Regions from separate parts of the Homo sapiens genome. Here region 2 is linked to region 1. A link means that fine-mapping ties the variant in region 1 to the expression of a gene that starts in the linked region. Tissue or cell type: skeletal muscle. Region 1 holds a variant in brackets; the other region holds the start of a gene. All regions are shown on one strand. Distances are between the middles of the regions. Region 1 overlaps MAFA-AS1 (MAFA antisense RNA 1). Region 2 holds the start of GSDMD (gasdermin D).

Region 1 (4,381 bases):
AACAGATAAACTGAAAATCTCAGAGGCATTCCTGGAACCAGTGTTAGTCAGAAGTCAGCATGGTGGATTAGCTTCCATGGTATGTTACTTTAGCCTCCACACATACCAAGGATTAGTAGTAAAGATGGAACTGGACTTCCAGTAACCACACAGAAGCTCAAAGACAGAGTACCTTACAGATGCTGAGGAAAAGAGACTCCCAACAGCAAATTCTATACCCAGCCAAACTATCTGTCTAGTGTGAGGAAATACTAATGACACTGTTAGATTTGTTAAATCTCAAAACACTTATCTCCCATGCATCTCTTCTGAAGAAGTATCTGAAGGATGCTCCCCTACAAGGAGAAGTCAACCAAGAAAGAGAAGGGGGTGCCAACACAGGTGAGGCAGGAGGGGCCAGCAGGCCTGGAGAGCAGCCAGTCCAGCTGTGGCAGGAAACTGGTTGGCTCCTGCTGAAAGGTATCCAGGGAAAATGGCCTTCCTAGATTACACAATGCAAGTTTCTGTGTGGAAGCCATGTCACGAGAGATTTCTAAAATGATTAGAGCATTTAGGAAGAATTTGTTGTTGACACATAGAAAACCAAACAAAGGAAAACCAGGAGGCAATTTTTAACTCCAGGAAAAACAAAGAAGTTGCTCAGGAAAGAGCATTTAATTATAGTATATAACGTTGTTCAGGCAAGAACAATTCTTATGTAGTCATGATAATTTAAATATGGAATATTTTTAAGCTAAAAGTATTGTGGGGTTTTGTTGTTGTTGTTGTTTTGTTGTTGAGACGGAGTCTCACTCTGTCGCCCAGGCTGGAGTGCAGTGGTGTGATCTCAGCTCACTGCAAGCTCCACCTCCTGGGTTCACGCCATTCTCCTGCCTCAGCCTCCTGAGTAGCTGGGACTACAGGCGCAAGCCACCACGCCCGGCTAATTTTTTGTATTTTTAGTAGAGACGGGGTTTCACCATTTTAGCCAGGATGGTCTCGATCTCCTGACCTCGTGATCTGCCCGCCTCAGCCTTTTTTGTTGTTGTTGTTGTTTTTTGGAGACAAGGTCTCACTCTGTCACCCAGGCTGGAGTGCAGTGGTGTGATCACAGCTCACTGCATCCTAGACCTCCCAGGCTCAGGCAATCCTCCCACCTCAGCCTCATTTGTAGCTGGGACTACAGGTGCATGCCACCATGCCCAGCTAATTTTTTGTAGTTTTGGTAGAAATGGGGTTTCATCACATGGCCCAGGCTAGTCTTAAACTCCTGGGCTCCAGCAATCTGCTTGCCTTGGCCTCCCAAAGTGCTGGGATTACAGGCATGAGCTGCTGCACCCGGCCTAAACTAAAAATGTTCACATAGTATATAGGGAGGATGTGGGGCGGGGAAGAGCAAATGTGTAATGGAGTGAAATCCTAAACAATGCCTAAAATTAATAAATCAAGAAATAGTAATATAAACATTTTATTTAGAGATTTGGAGGTGTACTAGTCTGTTCTCGCACTGTAATAAATTACCAAGACTGGGTAATTTATAAAGAAAAAGAGGTTTAATGGACTCACAGTTCCACATGGCTGGGGAGGCCTCATAATCATGGCGGAAAGTGAAGGAGGAGCAAAGGCGCGTCTTACATGGTGGCAGGCAAGAGAGCGTGTGCAGGAGAACCGCCTTTTATAAAACCATCAGATCTTGAGAGACTTATTCACTATCACGAGAACAGCACAGGAAAAACTCACCCCCATGATTCAATTACCTCCCACTGGGTCCCTCCCATGACACATGGGGATTATGGGAGCTGCAATTCAAGATGAATTAGGGTGGGGACACAGCCGAAACATATCAGGAGGTTCCTGGAAGAAACAGAGTTGAAAGCAGTTATCTTGCTGAGTGGGGGACTCAGGGCATGGGCAGGAGACTGCTGAGTTTTGTTTTACGTCTTACTACATTTGATTTATAAAAGACAGATGTGCATATATCACTTCAA[A/C]AAAACAAAAGTGGATGTGGCTGATGCCAAAGTGACCTGCCCCAGAAGAGCTGCTAACAGAACAGCATCCCAGGAGGCTGCAGAAGGCTGAAGAGCAGAGCCCACACCTGCTATGGGCCACAAGAGGCCCTGGATGCCATGGAGGCCGCAAGGGCCCAGGCGGGACTTGCAGAATGAGAGTCCTAGGCCCAAGTATAGAGTCCCTGGTGGGCACAGAGGAGAGACCAGGTCAGTGGGAGGGGTTGTCAGACCCTGTGGAGTGCCCCACCTGTGTGCCAGGCCCAGAACTGGGCTCAACTCTGATGGTAGCAGGTGGAAAGTAGACTTCACTACTGTGGGAGTGGGGGCATTCCTGGACACAGGGGGAAACCAGCTCACAGAACAGCCTGGGGTCTTCTTGGAGGAGGCCATTTTGGCCCAGATCCTAAAGGAAGACTGGAAGCCTCAGGGGGCAGTGAGAACAGGGACAAGAGAGGGCAGGTCTCAGGACTGACTGAGCAACTCAGACTGACCTGGATCAAACTGTGGAGCCGGCGAAGGGTTTAGAGGGTTGCTGCAGGACAGTGGTGTCTGCAAAGACGCCTCTGGCTGCTGTCTGGAAAATAGACAGGGGAGGCTGGGCAGGGGTCTGGGCAGGGGCTGGACAGGGGTGCTGGGCAGGGGCTGGACAGGGGTGCTGGGCAGGGGCTGGACAGGGGTGCTGGGCAGGGGCTGGACAGGGGTGCTGGGCAGGGTCAGTCCATCTCCATCCTGCTTTCCTTTTCTTTCTTTTCAACAAATATTGATGGAGCACCTCCTCGGTGCCAGGCGCTGCTGCAGCCTCTAGGAAATCAACCGTGGAAACACACGGACCCTGCCCTCCCGGCGCCAGTGTTCTGGTGGTCAGGAGGTGAAGAAAACCAGCAAGAACCAGCACAGGAATCCGACGGTGGCAGCGCCGAGAGAAACAAGCTTGGAGGGGAAGGAGAGCTACAGAGGCTGCATGGGTGAGGCCAGCTTCTTGAAAATGGAGGTGTGAGATTTGAGGAGGGCTCTGGAGAGAAGAGGGAAGAGGGCCCAGGGGAGAGATGAGCAAAGGTTCGGTGGTACAAACTGAGCTCCCTCACTCCACGTTTGGAGTCATTCCACAGCTTCCTAAACCACCCACCCAGGCAACCCCATCCCCCTACCCACCCATCCACCCACCAACTCACCCCCAACCCCCCACCCACCCATCCTCCCACCCACCTGCCAACCCCCTACCCACCCACCCACTCATCCTCCCACCCTCCAACCCCCTACCCACACACTCACCCATCCTCCCACCCACCCTTCAGCCCCCTACCCCCCACCCACCCACTCATCCTCCCACACACCCTCCAACCCCCTACCCAGCCACCCACCCACTCATCCTCCCACCCTCCAACCCCCACCCACCCACCCACTCATCCACTGACTCTCTAACCCCCTACCCACCCATCCACTCACTCATCCACTCTTCCCCATACCCCCCCACCCACCCACTCATCTTCCCACTCACCCCCATACCCCCTACTCACCCACCCACTCACCAACTTACCCGCCCATCCATTCATTCACCCTCCTCCCACTCACCCACTCCCACCCATCCCCCATTCCCCCATGCCTCATCCTCCCATCCATCCATCTACCCACTCACCTACCCAACCACTCACCCATCTACCCACTCACCCACGCACCCTTCCATCCATCCACCCACCCATCATCCACCCACTCATCTGCCCATCTCCCCATTCCCCCACCATCCCATCCATCCATCCACCCATCCACCCATCCATCCACCCAACTGACCATCCACGTATCCACTCACCCACCTGTTCACCCATCTACACACCATTTATTCACCCACCATCAACCATCCATATATCCTTCCATCCAGCCACTATCCTCCCGTTCCTACCCATCCTGCTGTCTTCCTCATCTTTCTTGTCACACGTCCAGCTGTCTGTCCGTTCATCCACCCATCACCTCATATGCTCCTTTTGTTTTTACCTCTTTCACCTTTCTTCATCTTCAAATGCAGATGTGATGGTTGGAGTGGAAGCTGACATTGTGGGCCAGGAGACCCTGGGAGTACAGGCCAAGATGAAAAGAGCCTCAATCCAGAGCGTTCTGTGAAGCAGTCACCACGGCCACCCTGGGCCATCAGCTTCTGGACTTTTACAACATAGAAATTAAATTTCCATTGAATTTGTTGGAGTCATTGTTCCTTCAGCTCTCTGTTACCTGCACTTACATCTCTCTGTGAGTCGCGGAGTCTTGCAGTTAAGGTATTAATATTATTGCGTCTCAAGGTGCCTCAGGTCAGAGGTTCCAAAGGTGAATGAGGGCACAGCTCTCCGTCTGAGACTCACGGTGGAGAAGCCTCCTCACCTTGCTCCTTCTCCCTGTCACCA
Region 2 (4,381 bases), 140 kb after region 1:
GGAGGCAGAGATTGCAATGAGCTGAGGTTGTGCCATTGCACTCCAGTCTGGGCAAAAAAGAGCAACACTCCGTCTCTCACACACAGACACAAAATTAGCCGGGTGTGGTGGTACATGCCTGTAGTCCCAACTACTCGGGAGGCTGAGGCAGGAGAATCGCTTGAACCTGGGAGGCAGAGGTTGCAATGAGCTGAGATCACGCCACTGCACTCCATCCTGGTGACAGAGCAAGACTCAGTCTCAAAACAAAAACGAAAACTTTGCCAGGTGTGGTGCTGAGCACCTGTAGTCCCAGCTACTCAGGAGACTGACAGGAGGGGATCACTTGAGCCCAGGAGGTCGAGGCTGCAGTGAGTGGTGATTGTGCCACTGCACTCCAGCCTGGGCGACAGAGAGATCTTGCCTCACACAAAACAAAACAAACAACAAAAAATACACAAAACAGCCAGGAGACAGCACCAGCAGGGACCCGCAGGGCACCACTGTGTCCCCACTGTGGTCAGGCCTAGGAGTGGGGCCGAAGCCCAAGTAGCCCCATCCACAACCGCGGAGCGGCTGGGAGGGCCGGGTGGGAGGACTACCGTGTGCAGGGGTGGGCCCATGGCCCTGGGCCCACCATGACTTAGGTCAGTAGGGCACTGAGGGAGCCTGTGCCGAGACTAGGTGTTGCTACTGGGCACTAGATTTTTAAAATAACTGCTTTAATGAGACATAATTGTGTAATTCCCATACCATACAATTCATCCATTTAAAGTGTGCAATTCTGTGGGTCTTAGCATATTCAGAGGTATGCAAACATCACCAACGGCCAATATCAAAACACTTCCTCACCCCAGAAAGAAACCCCAAACCAGCAACCGTCGCTCCCAACCCCCGTCCCGGGCACCGGCAGCGCCATCTCCCTTCTTCCCTCTGGACGTGCCCATTCGGGACACATCACGTGAGCAGGATCACGCCGTCCGCTCCGTGTGCCTGGCTTTTCACTTAGCATGATGTCTCCAAGTCTGTGTCGCCCGTCTGTGTCGCCCAGTGCATCAGGGTCTCATTCCTTTTGACCGTGGGCGCCGTTCTACGGCCTGGATTCCAGTGCCTGGACTGGCCATGTTTAGTCTATGCACGCCTCAGTGGATGGACAGGGTTTCCACCTTGCCGCTATGGCGAAGGATGCTGCCGCTATGGCGAAGGATGCTGCCGCTATGGTGAAGGATGCTGCCGCTTTGGCGAAGGATGCTGCCGCTATGGCGAAGGATGATGCCGCTGTGACGACAGCTGCTGCCGCTGTGGCGAAGGATGCTGCCGCTGTGACGACGGATGCTGCCGCTATGATGAAGGATGATGCCGCTGTGACGACGGATGCTGCCACTATGGCGAAGGATGCTGCCGTGAACTTTGGTGCACAGGCATCTGTTTGCGTCTTTGCTTTCAATTCCTGTGGGTGGAGCTAGGAGTGGAATTGCTGGGTCACACGGTAACTCTTGGAGGAGCTGCCAGGCTTATTCCAGAGGGCCGCACGGGTTGACATTCCCACCAGCATTGCACAAATGTTCCAGTGACTCCACGTGCCCCCCGCGCTGGTTATTCACCTTTAGTAATACGACCATCTTTGTCAGTGTGCAGTATCTCTCTGTGGATTCCATTTGCATTTCCTTGATGACTAAGGGTGTTGAGCATCTTTGCATTTGCTTGAGGGCAATTTCTACATTTTGTACATCTTTGGAAGATCTGCCCAGACCCTTCGGCACAGGCCCAAAGTTGTTTGTTTGCTTGTTTGTTTTTGAGACGGAGTCTCACTCTGTCGCCCAGGCTGGAGTACAATGGCATGATCTCGGCTCACTGCAACCTACACCTCCCAGGTTCAAGCGATTCTCTTGCCTCAGCCTCCCAGGTAGCTGGGATCACAGGCATGCGCCACCACGCCGGGCTAATTTTGTATTTTTAGTAGAGACGGGGTTTCACCATGTTGGTCAGTCTGGTCTTGAACTCCCGACCTCAGGTGATCCGCCCGGGCACAGGCTCAGAGTTTTAAGAAAAACCACAAAGTGCTATGAAGTTTGAGGCTACCAGGATGGGGCGCCAAGCCAAGGTTCCTCCGGACGCGCGAGGCTGGTGCTCCAGGCGGGCTGGCGGGAAGAGGGGGCAGGAAGGGGGCCGGGGCGGGCTCTCCGGGACGGTTCCGGGAGGGCGTCCTGGGCGGGCCCTGCGTCAGGTTGCAGTTTCACTTTTAGCTCTGGGCACCTCCAGCTCCTGCTCGCCGGACGGCTCCCAGGGAGAGCAGACGCGCCAGACGCGCCACCCTCGGGGCGCCGACGGTCACGGTGAGCTGCGCCCCGCCCCCTCCCCCGGCCTGGCTGGAGCTCCCGAGTGGGGCCGGCCGCTGGCTCCCGGGTGGGGGATGCTGGCCCTGCTGCCCCAGCGTTCGCCCAGAAGGCCCCGCGCCGCACACGGGGGCGGAAGCTCCAGGCTTCGGGAAAGGCTGCCCCTGGCCAGCCCAGGGGCCCGGCCTTTGGACCTGGGCTTGGGCTTGACTCCCAGGTCCGCCATCCAGGTTCCCGGGCCGGTGCTGTTCCCGCCCCCAGCTGCCTTCTGGGCCCAGCCTCCACTTTCAGCAGACCCAGCACTCAGAGGCTTCCTGGGGCAGCTGCAGCCCCTCCACAGTGGCCCAGGTGCCCCCTATCCCAGCGGAGGCCCGCTATGGCCTCTGACCCCCAAAGCCTCAGCCTTGGACAGGTGGCTCATGGAGCTCCAGGCACAGAGAAGGCCCTGGAGGACGCAGCTGGGGTGGGGCGACACTCTGGCTGGGTTTTGCAGTGGGTCCCTGGTGACACTCTGGCTGGGTTTTGCAGTGGGTCCCTGCACCACGCTCAGGAGGTGACAGCTTGTTTCCTCCCAGCCAGAGGCAGCCATTCTAGTGGACAGAGCCCTCTGTGTTAGAGCAGGTCTGGGCGTCAGGCCTCACTGTCCCTGGCTGGAGGTGCTCATGGTACCGTAGACAACAGGGAGAACACTGTAATTCTGTGTTGGGGAGGGCCGGGGACAGAAGCTTTCTGCTAGTGGGAGCATCCCAGGATGAGCTGGGCAGGGCTGTTCTGGAGGGAAGGAGTCCCCCATCATGGGAGACATCCAAGTACTGACCCTTCTCCCACTCCCTCCCGCCCGCCCCGAGAGCACAATGCCTGACCCATTTCCCCTCCTCAGGAGCATGGGGTCGGCCTTTGAGCGGGTAGTCCGGAGAGTGGTCCAGGAGCTGGACCATGGTGGGGAGTTCATCCCTGTGACCAGCCTGCAGAGCTCCACTGGCTTCCAGCCCTACTGCCTGGTGGTTAGGAAGCCCTCAAGCTCATGGTTCTGGAAACCCCGTTATAAGTGTGTCAACCTGTCTATCAAGGACATCCTGGAGCCGGATGCCGCGGAACCAGGTGCCTGATGTGGTGCTGAGGCAGAGCCCCAGGGAGGCTGGATGGGAGAGGGGAGCGGGCTGGGGCCAACCATCCACTGGGCTCTGCAGCCTCTAGCTCTGGGCCTCTCTTCCAGAGGCCGGGGCCTTTCCAAAGGTCCCTCTGCCCTGGGGCTGGGACAGGGCTGGTGGGGGCGGGGGAGAGGCGGGGCGCTGGGCACAGCCTCAGGTCTGGCCTTGCTTTAGACGTGCAGCGTGGCAGGAGCTTCCACTTCTACGATGCCATGGATGGGCAGATACAGGGCAGCGTGGAGCTGGCAGCCCCAGGACAGGCAAAGATCGCAGGCGGGGCCGCGGTGTCTGACAGCTCCAGCACCTCAATGAATGTGTACTCGCTGAGTGTGGACCCTAACACCTGGCAGACTCTGCTCCATGAGAGGTGGGCCCGAAGAGGGCAGGGCAGGGCAGGGCCCCACCTACCCCAAGCAACCCTGCTTTTATTTATTTATTTATTTAAATTATTTTTTGAGGTGAGGTTTTGCTATCTCGGCCAGGGTGGTCTTGAACTCCTGGCCTCAAGCAGTCCTCCTGCCTCGGCCTCCCAAAGTGCTGGGATTACAGGGGTGAGCCACTGTGCCAGGTCCCAGCCTTGCTCTTGGGAAGGTCACAACCTTGGGGCATCAGGAAAGTCCCAGAGGCAAAAGAGCGCTGTGGCCGGAACCAGCTTGCAGGAAGGAAGCTGCAGGGGTCATCTGGGGCCTCCGCTGCCAGGACTGGATCCTAAGGACCGGACTGAGCCCCAGGCTGCTGTGAGGACAAGGGGTGGTGTGAACACGGGGGCCCAGGTGAGGGGGCCGCACCTCGAGTCTGGACTTGGAGTCCCCGAGTCCACCTTTCCTCATGGGGTCCCGTCCCCGTGGGGAGCACACGGAGAGGCTGCCGGTGCCCCGGCACCCACAGACCTCTGGAGGGCCCCTCTGCACCACC

The links. PIP is the estimated chance that this variant, and not a neighbour inherited with it, causes the effect.
Region 2: it holds the start of GSDMD, and the variant in region 1 is the best candidate, but not a certain one, in a credible set for the expression of GSDMD in skeletal muscle (GTEx, PIP 0.80).

The regions. Positions count from the first base shown.
Region 1 is chr8:143,414,967-143,419,347 of GRCh38, forward strand. It overlaps MAFA-AS1 (MAFA antisense RNA 1), which reads left to right. Exons shown (of 3, transcript NR_186795.1): 2 at 2,775-2,953; 3 at 4,009-4,184. Among named protein-coding and RNA genes, the nearest start is that of MAFA-AS1, 9.0 kb to the left of the region's middle. The variant A/C (reference allele first, on the strand shown) is at 1,968.
Region 2 is chr8:143,556,137-143,560,517 of GRCh38, forward strand. It overlaps GSDMD (gasdermin D), which reads left to right and starts at 2,210. Exons shown (of 11, transcript NM_024736.7): 1 at 2,210-2,315; 2 at 3,196-3,416; 3 at 3,641-3,833. The coding sequence starts at 3,200. LOC100310756 (a long non-coding RNA gene) reads right to left here and starts at 2,135. Exons shown (of 1, transcript NR_147504.1): 1 at 683-2,135. RefSeq lists an enhancer at 2,025-2,666.